Linked DNA regions of Homo sapiens: region 2 is linked to region 1. The links come from fine-mapping of genetic effects on gene expression. A gene starts in region 1. The other region holds a variant in brackets. All regions are shown on one strand. Distances are between the middles of the regions.

Region 1 (5,246 bases):
AAACAAACATTTGAAATGGAGGGAGAAACCAGGTTTAAACAATGAGTGAAAACAGTTTCCATCTCAGCTTTCCTGCTGATAAACATATGTGCCCCCTCATTTGTTTCTGAAACATAAGTTTTCCATCATTTTAACAGAGCCTCAGCCTCAACTGAATCTGTCCAGAGCATAGGAAACAAATATTTTGAGATTTAGTAAAATGGTGCATACATATATTAGGGGCATTTTGACAATGTTCAAACTGTTTACCAAACAAACTTTATGATGGCCTATGCAAACCTTTGAATCCTACTGTATTTTTCACATAACGATGACTTCTCACTGATCTCATCTGCCTGTGTGCTACAGTATTGACTTTAATATTAATGGAGAAACAGACAGATATCAAAAGCCATGTGATTTGTCTCATGCCATTTGCAATTTTGTCTTCTGTCATCAACACTGACTTCTCCTTCCTTGTTCTGCTGAACTCCATACTTAGGTGCCCAGCTACTTCCTCAGAGCCTGCCCTCATTCTTTACCTGTGGCCTGCAGCATGGACAGGTGCATTCTTGCTGCTTATCTGAAAAATATGATCCACAGAAATAACTTGAATCTTTTTGCCCATTTAAAATGTGCTCTAGGTTCTCTGGTTCTCTGTACTAACTATAGAAAGCCATCTAGTCACAAGTTTCTCCTTCCTGTGGTCTCCATTTGGGCAATACAATTAAGAAAAATACGTTTCCCCACATAACAATTCTTCCAATTCTTTTCCCCTTCTTTGATGCTTTTATGATAGATTATGAATGGTCATCAGTGATTTTCTGTAAATGCCACGTTTCCTTTTTGCCAAGACAAAGAGTGAGACTAAGGGACCATCTAGTGCTTCCTCTTGTGGTATAGAGGCTAAACAGCGTGAGTTCTGATATTAGTTTCCTTTGATTTAAATGCAAGTGTCTTCATTTAATAGCTGTATGATCTCAGAAAAGTTATTAAACTCTATGAGTCCTAGTTTCCTGATTTGTAAAGTGGGGGCTAATATGAATAGCTTGTAATAGCACCTACCATATGCTAGGCATGATTTTAGGCACTTTAAACATATTAGCTCATTTAATTTTCCATTAGCTTATTTAAAATTCCTACTCTACGATGTAGGTAATTTATATCATTCTCCTTTCTCAGATGAGAAACTGAGACATGAAGAAGTAAAGTAACTTGGCCAAGGTCAGAATTAGTAAGTGGTAGAGCTGGGTTTGTAAAGCCAGGTAGTTGGATCCCAGAGGCTATTTACTAACCAGTGTGCTATATTGCCTCTCTATTAAATTATTGATGATAAATAACTCATCACAGTGTTCGGCACATAACATTTATTGTCAGCTAGTATTATCACTACCATCACCTGTTCTTATCTTTCTTCATTTTGTCACTCTTGCTTCTGCTGGATTGGTTGTGTAGTTTATTGCCCCCACTGCCACAAGAGACAGCAGCAACAGTGATCTAGGTTGAAATAGCTAGCGAATCCCTCTTCACTTTATGTGCTTTGTATTTAAACCACAAATATGACAGAGACCTATGAAAGGAGACTAAACCTCTTTTTGGTCGTGTAAAAATTATATTCCTGCAATCTCCAACCCTCCAGCAACAAGCCAACAAAAACTGCGCAAAGCAAGGGAGAAATTTTAGAAGTGGTAGACTTCAAGTAAAATTCCTACCATTCTTTAATAAACAGGGGTAAAAATTTCAGAAAGTAATGAAGGTTGTGAAAGCTGATGAACAAAGACTTTGCTACTATAATAAATTTCCTAGTCTCTACTCACTAATTTCTATTAGAATGCCAATATCAGGAAAAAAGGAAGAGAAAATTCTGTAAATAATTACTATATTTTTCTCCTACCAAGTAAGCCACTGACTTCAAAATTCTCTAGCACATTTGTGGAAACTTCATTTTTTTTGTTTGAGATTTATTTGAATGAGCTGTTATGATTGGAGACAGTGAGAATTTCAGATTAATGTTTTGCAGACAAAAAAAAACCTCTCTGGAAAGCTGGCAAGGGTTCATAAGTCAGCCCTAGAATTATGTAGGTTGAAGGCTCCCAGTGGACAGACCAAACATATAAGAAGGAAACCAGAGATCTGGTGCTATTACGTCCCAGCGTCTGAGAGAACGAGTAAGCACAGAATTCAAAGCATTCTGCAGCCTGAATTTTGAAGGTAAGTATGAACAATTTATATATAATTTACTTGGAAAGTAGAACATACATTAAATGAAAATATTTTTTATGGATGAACTTCTGTTTTTCCTGTGTTTTAACACTGTATTTTGCAAAACTCCTGAATTATTTAGCTGCTGTTTCTCTTACAGGAGTGTGTTTAGGCACTAAGCAAGCTGATTTATGATAACTGCTTTAAACTTCAACAACCAGTAAGTCTTCAAGTGGAATTTATTATTGATTCTTTTATGTTAATTTGTTAGGTCAAAAGAAAAATCTTTAGAGCAAAATAAAAGTTTTGCTCTTTATTAGGAGGTTCTTTAGATATTACACTTTTAATTGGGTAGCTTATTTGCATGTATTTTGAAACTATCTAAAGTAAATAGTGTTTCCTTTGTATGCTTATCTTTAGCTAATGTGTTTTTTTTTTTGGTTTTAAAATAATGCTTCTAGTGAAAAAAATCACAAAAACCTCAACACTGTAACGTTTGAGAGCAACGGCTATTCAGTTCGGTTAAACCGAAAAGAGAGAAAAAGAAAAATGATAAGACTATATCATGATTAATCATTGATGTTCATTTCTCATTTCACTGAGCAATCTAAACTACTTCTACTTGAACCTAACATAGGTTTGGCTGTTTTTTTCTTTATCTGATTTAATTGAAAATGGATTGTTTAGATATTAAATAGACCAAAATTAGATATCTATATCTAAAACTAATATTCTCTATTAAAAGGAGAAGACTTAGAAATATAAATATATTTCATAACTTCTTCTTAACTATATTATTATTGTGAAAACAATAGAAAAGTAAAACTAAAGGAATTATTTTTAATTATTAAAGACAAACCATGATTCCCCATCACAATATGTTCCTTTGGCATATTCTCTTTTAGTTTTTTATATACTTATTTTTTCCATTGCTTATGTTACTTATATTTTCCACAGCTGTAGTGATTTGTATGTAATTAGTTACTTAAATAGAGCATTTCTCTATGCAATAGCAAGCAGCAGTGTGGTTTCTAGAAAGTATACAAACAGAGATATATGCTCAAGTGTTTTTTGAAAGATTAACTTTTCTTACCTCTGGGTTTCTTATTTGTTTCACACATTTCCTGCCCTGACTAATCTTTTGAAATATTAATTTTCTTTAAATCTTTCAAAAACATCATAGAAAAGATGGGCAAAAGGTAGTTTTATTCAGAACTTTGAATCTCTGAAATGTCTTTTTTCTACTATCAGGAAAATTATTTCTCCTTTTTCAAGAGGTAAAATGAATTCTTGTTTTACAAGCCATGGCTCTGTTTCTTAATGTTTTCTATAATCACTCACTTTTTTTTTGCTTTTGACAAACATTCAAAATGCTAATGATTCAAGGATGTCCTCAGCTCTGTATGTGTTCTAAGAGTTCTATGTTTTTTCTCCACAGAAGGCATAAGAACTAGGAGCTGCTGACATTTCAATATGAAGGGCAACTCCACCCTTGCCACTACTAGCAAAAACATTACCAGCGGTCTTCACTTCGGGCTTGTGAACATCTCTGGCAACAATGAGTCTACCTTGAACTGTTCACAGAAACCATCAGATAAGCATTTAGATGCAATTCCTATTCTTTACTACATTATATTTGTAATTGGATTTCTGGTCAATATTGTCGTGGTTACACTGTTTTGTTGTCAAAAGGGTCCTAAAAAGGTTTCTAGCATATACATCTTCAACCTCGCTGTGGCTGATTTACTCCTTTTGGCTACTCTTCCTCTATGGGCAACCTATTATTCTTATAGATATGACTGGCTCTTTGGACCTGTGATGTGCAAAGTTTTTGGTTCTTTTCTTACCCTGAACATGTTTGCAAGCATTTTTTTTATCACCTGCATGAGTGTTGATAGGTACCAATCTGTCATCTACCCCTTTCTGTCTCAAAGAAGAAATCCCTGGCAAGCATCTTATATAGTTCCCCTTGTTTGGTGTATGGCCTGTTTGTCCTCATTGCCAACATTTTATTTTCGAGACGTCAGAACCATTGAATACTTAGGAGTGAATGCTTGCATTATGGCTTTCCCACCTGAGAAATATGCCCAATGGTCAGCTGGGATTGCCTTAATGAAAAATATCCTTGGTTTTATTATCCCTTTAATATTCATAGCAACATGCTATTTTGGAATTAGAAAACACTTACTGAAGACGAATAGCTATGGGAAGAACAGGATAACCCGTGACCAAGTCCTGAAGATGGCAGCTGCTGTTGTTCTGGCCTTCATCATTTGCTGGCTTCCCTTCCATGTTCTGACCTTCCTGGATGCTCTGGCCTGGATGGGTGTCATTAATAGCTGCGAAGTTATAGCAGTCATTGACCTGGCACTTCCTTTTGCCATCCTCTTGGGATTCACCAACAGCTGCGTTAATCCGTTTCTGTATTGTTTTGTTGGAAACCGGTTCCAACAGAAGCTCCGCAGTGTGTTTAGGGTTCCAATTACTTGGCTCCAAGGGAAAAGAGAGAGTATGTCTTGCCGGAAAAGCAGTTCTCTTAGAGAAATGGAGACCTTTGTGTCTTAAACGTGAGAGCAAAATGCATGTAATCAACATGGCTACTTGCTTTGAGGCTCACCAGAATTATTTTTAAGTGGTTTTAATAAAATAATAAAATTTCCCCTAATCTTTTCTGAATCTTCTGAAACCAAATGTAACTATGTTTTATCGTCCAGTGACTTTCAGGAATTGCCCATTGTTTTTCTGATATGTTTGTACAAGATTGTCATTAGTGAGACATATTTACAACCTAGAAGTAACTGGTGATATATCTCAAATTGTAATTAATAATAGATTGTGAATAATGATTTGGGGATTCAGATTTCTCTTTGAAACATGCTTGTGTTTCTTAGTGGGGTTTTATATCCATTTTTATCAGGATTTCCTCTTGAACCAGAACCAGTCTTTCAACTCATTGCATCATTTACAAGACAACATTGTAAGAGAGATGAGCACTTCTAAGTTGAGTATATTATAATAGATTAGTACTGGATTATTCAGGCTTTAGGCATATGCTTCTTTAAAAA
Region 2 (5,246 bases), 740 kb after region 1:
TCTTTAAATGTTTGGTAGAATTCAGCCATAAAACATTCCTGAGATTCTCTTTGATTGTAGATTCTTTATTGCTGATTCTATTTTTTTACTCCTTATTTGTCTGTTCAGATTTTCTATTTCTTCATGAAATAGGTTTTGGTAGACAGTATATGATTAGGAATTCATCAATTTTTTCCTAGGTTATCCAATTTGTTGGTATATATTGGTTCATAGTAGTCTCTTATGATCCTTTTATTTCTCTGATATCAGTGGTAACATATTTTCATTTCTGATTTTTCTTAGTATAGCTGTTTGTCAATTTTACTATCTTTACAAAATGAGTGTTGACCTTTCCTATGTTTTTTTCTCATTTCTGTTTTATGTCTGCTCTAATTTTTATTATTTTTCTTCTGCTAACTTCAGTTAGTTTTTCTATTCCTTGTGGTGTAAAAGTAGGTTGTTTGTTTGGAAACTTTCTTTTTCCTTAATATATGCATTTATTTCTAGCAACTTCTCTCTTAGAACAGCTTTTTCTGCATCTCATATGATTAGATATGCTGTGTTCCTATTTGTATTGGTCTTAAGGAACTTTTAAATTTTCCTTTTGATTTCTTGTTTGATCTATTTTTTGTTCAATAGCATGTTGTTTAATTTCCACAAATTTTGAATTTTCCAAAATTCTTCCTGTTATTGATTTTTTGTTGCATACCATTTTGGTCAGTAAAGATACTAGATGTTATTTCAATCTTTTAAATTCACTGACTTGTTATGTGGCCTAATATAAGATCTATCCTGGAGAATGTTCTACATGCACTTGAGAAAAATGCGTATTCTGCTGTTGTTGGAAAGCATACGTGTATATGCCTTCCAGGTTCATGTGGTCTAAAGTGTCTTCAAGAACAATGTTTCCTTATTGATTTTCTGTCTAGATGATCTATTTGTCATTGAAACTGGGGTTTCAAATCCCCCAGTATTATTGTTTTGTATTTTTCCCTTCAGATCTATTAATATTTGCTTTATATTTTAGGTGCTCCAATTCTGGGTGCATACATAGTTACAACTGCTCTATTCTCTTGATAAATTGACTCCTTTACCATGATATAATGACCCTCTTTGCCTCTTGTCACAGTTTCTGTCTTAAAGTCTATGTTATATGATAAAACTATAGCTACTTTTGCTTTCTTTTGGTTTACATATGCATTAAGTATCTTTTTTTCTTTCCTTCACTTTAAGTCCCTGAGTGTCCTTAAATCTAAAGTGAGCTTCTTATAGGGAGAATATAATTGGGTCTTGTTTATTTATTCATTCAGCCACTCTGCATCTTTTGATTAAATAATTTAATCTACTTACATTCAAGAACTATTGATAGGTATGGACTTACTACTGCCATTAGTTAATGCTTTCTGGTTATGTTGTAGATCTTTTGTTGTTTCTTATACTCTTGCTGCTGTCTTTATTATTATTATTATTATCATCATTATTTTGGTGATTTGATGATTTCCTGTCCTGTAGTGGTATGCCCTGACTCATCTCTTGTTATCTTTTGTGTATCTGCTATATACAGTTCACTGGTAAAATAAATATATAATCAAATTCAGAATACTCATAATGATGGTTTGTAAATCACCTATAACTCAATAATTTAAAGGTAAAACTATAAAGCATTAAAAATAACTATATTACAATAATTTGTTAATGGATACACAGTATAATAAGATGTGAATTTTGACATCAAAAACATAAAAAGTGGGAGGGGGAGTAAAAGTGTAGAGTTCTTTTCATTCATTTAAGATTATGCTGTTATTAGCTTAAAATAGTCTTTTCTAACTATAAGAAATCTCATGCTGACCACAAAGCAAAAACCTGTAGTAGATACATATCTTTGTAGGCAGCACAGCCAGGTAGTCAGAGTCTTGAACATGGGCACATAAGAAGTTATAGTGGCTCTGGAGTTCCAGATGTAGTAGTGATTAACTTGATGTAACTGCAGCTCCGATGTCCTAGGAGTAGGCACACATAAAGCAGCCCTGGAGGAGGAATATGTAGTAC[G/T]GGCATGCACAGAGTGACCAAGGCTCCAGAGAATGAGACAAGGCTGGCCTGTAGCTGCAATATCTCTGGTGTTTGCAGCATGGGTGTGTGTGGTTTGGCCACAGAGCCGAAGTCTGAAACACTAGAAAATGAGAAGTTCTTTGGAGCCAGTGTTTGAAGTGTGGGCATATGCACAGCGGTCACAACTTCAGAGTCAAGAGTGTGTGCAAGGTTGGAAGAGGTGATGGCTCCAGCCTTGAAACAGTGCACAGCTGCTTCTTCTTGGGGGGGGCGGGGGCACACCCACGTCTCCATCTCAGCGGTTTTTGGAGGGGATTGCTGTTGATTACCTCACTGGTAAAAGATGCTAGTGTTCTTTCCAGCATAGGCAACTGAAGACCATGATGTCACCCATTGCCTGGCTGATGCTGACAGCCACTGGCCTATTTCTTTGTTCCTACTATCTCCAGACATCTCAGGTATGCCAACTTCCCCAGGGATCTTTTCTGTGTCTTTACTCTTCATTTTATTGTATTGTTTCATTTTGCTTTTTTCTGTTTTTCTCCACTGTGTTGCTTCAAGTTCTTAAATTAACCCTTGATCCCTCCCAGGGCTATTATTCTTCATGAATAACTATTTGTTGCTTTCTGTAGATACTATGATTTGAATATTGTGCCTTCCAAAACTCATGGTGAAAATTAATCCCCAATGTGACAGTGTCAAAAGGTCGGGCGTTTCATAGGTGATTGGTTTGTGAGGGTATTCCCCTCACAAATGGATGAATCTATTCATCAGTTAATTACTAGGTCATCATGGGAAGGCAACTGGTGTCTTTATAAGAAAGGAAAGAGAGAACTGAGCTAACATGTTAGCACACTCAGCTCCCTTGCCATGTGATGCCCTGAACTGCCCTGTACCACCTTGGGACTGTACAGAGAGTCCCCACCAGCAAGAAAGCTCTCCCAAGATGTTGCTCCTCAATCGTTGAACTTCTCAAGTGAAACTTGGACTTCTCAGTCTCCATAACTATAAGAGATAAATGTCATCTTCTTTATAAATAACCCAGTCTCCTCTATTCTGCTATAAGCAATATAAAACAGACTATGACAGTGGGGGCTGAAAGGCTTGTCTACTACTTCACCACCTTGCTGATAACACCCTATCAATTGAGTTTTTAAATACATTTGTAAAACTCATGGAAAATGATCAATAGTATTGAAAGCCAAGTTTTTTTCTGATTTTGTAGGATCTATATTAAGACTTTGGAGATATAAAATGCATTATTATGGTAACAGCAGCCTGAATGTAAATACAAACATTTGAAAGATTACAAAATTATGTGGATAACATTTATGTTATAAAAATGAGTGAGGAAAGAATTCATGATTATATTATACTCTTTTACCATCTCCAAAAGAGATATGTTTGATGCTAACGCAGGAGTTTAGAGTAATAGTGTTAGAAGACACTGAGTATCTCTAATAAGGGATCCTGTGTTCCCCACACTCACTCCAGGTAGAGGGACAATGTGAAGGAAACACCAGATAAGTTGGAGGGTACTCTCTAAAGTAGAAGCAACCTTTGTCTAGCTGTTCATGTTGTCAACTGAGAATATAGTTAGACATGCATTCAGCATGGTGCTGGGACTCTCAACCAACAATGGTGAGTGAAAGTCAAAGTAGATAGACCTAAAGGTAGGCTCACTGAGTTATATGTACCTTGTTATAGAGCTTTGTAAAATTCCTATACTTCAGGTGAGTGCAGGGAAAGTTGAAATAAGGCAGGCCAAGGAGATGTATATTAGTGGTTTGGATAAGGAGGACACATAGTGCAAAGACTATCATCAACCAGAGGCCACAGTGGGTCCAGGATTATCACAGTAAATGCCAGTTGAAGTGGATGGCAAAAAAACAATAGCAATTAGCTACAGCTTAATTTAATGATAGCAAAGGTTATAGGACATGCATGAAGCTGGGGTCCATACTACTTATTTACATGGCAAGACAATATGGAATCCTCCAAACTCCACCCTATTTTTTATTGGGAATGGAACAAAACAATAGATATTCCAGAGTTTGTGTAATTTAAACAACAAAAACTAAAGTACAAGCAATTTTGAAATTATATTACCATGTGGATCCGTTGGTGGTGGTTCTCTTGTGTTGTGTGTATATAGCTGATCTTTCAAAAATGTATTTTGAATAACTTTAGACTCATACAGAAAATTTGTAAAAATAGTAGAGTTCCCATACATTCTTCACCCTGTTTCTCCTATTAACATCTTACATAACCATGGTGAATTTATAAAAACTAAGAAAATAACATTTATACAGTATTGTTACATAAACTACAAACTTGCTTCAGGTTTAACAAGTTTTTCCATTATTTTTTTTTCCAGTTCCAGGATCTAATCCTAAATACTACATTGTGTTAAGTCGCCATGCTTTCTTAATCTCCTTCAAGCTGCAAAAATTCTTTGGTATTTACTTGTCTTTTATGTCTCAATAATTCTGAAGTGTACTGGTCAGTGTATTTCTAGAAATAGGTTTTCTCTACTAGGTTTTCCCTCAAATAGGTTTTCTCTAATGTTTTCTCATGATTAGACTGAAGTGGTGCAATATTTGGAAGAAAACCACAGAGGTCGTGTTTTGCTTTTCTCACTGAATTATATTGGGATCACAGGATGTCTCTATTTCTCGTTACTGGTAACATTAATCTTAATCACTCAGTTAAGGTAGTGTCTGAGAGCTTACTCTACCATAAATTTACTATTGTTCTCCTGTTAGTAATAAATATTTTGGAAAAGGTATTTTGAGACTATTCATATGTGCTAATTTTCTGTAAATTTTTGTCCACTAATTTTAATGTGCTTCAGTAGATCTTGCCAAAAACAATTATTACTGTGGTGTTCTAATGGTAATTTTTTATTATCATTTTTCATCCATATCTATTAATTATAATTTTCTATAAAAAAGACATTATATTATTCTGTGGCTAACAATATTATTCTTGTTTATTATTTAAATTATTCCATTTGTGGTATAAGGCTTAAAATTAATAATTAACATTATGTGCTGCTTTGACATCTGCTGAAATCTGGATGGCCTCAAATGGCCAAACTGCAAGTTCTCCTCCACACTCTGTTCCCATAGATATTTTCCCTAGCCAAACAATCCTTTTTATAATGGGAACAAGGTACCACTGCTGTTTATCCCTAGGTAGCAAGTTTTAGTATTTTG

The links. PIP is the estimated chance that this variant, and not a neighbour inherited with it, causes the effect.
Region 2: its variant is the best candidate, but not a certain one, in a credible set for the expression of AGTR2 in aorta (GTEx, PIP 0.65).

What each region holds. Positions count from the first base shown.
Region 1 is chrX:116,168,627-116,173,872 of GRCh38, forward strand. It overlaps AGTR2 (angiotensin II receptor type 2), which reads left to right and starts at 2,118. Exons shown (of 3, transcript NM_000686.5): 1 at 2,118-2,190; 2 at 2,342-2,401; 3 at 3,620-5,246. The coding sequence starts at 3,655. The coding sequence ends at 4,746.
Region 2 is chrX:116,906,104-116,911,349 of GRCh38, forward strand. No RefSeq gene overlaps it. Among named protein-coding and RNA genes, the nearest start is that of CT83, 450 kb to the left of the region's middle. The variant G/T (reference allele first, on the strand shown) is at 2,029.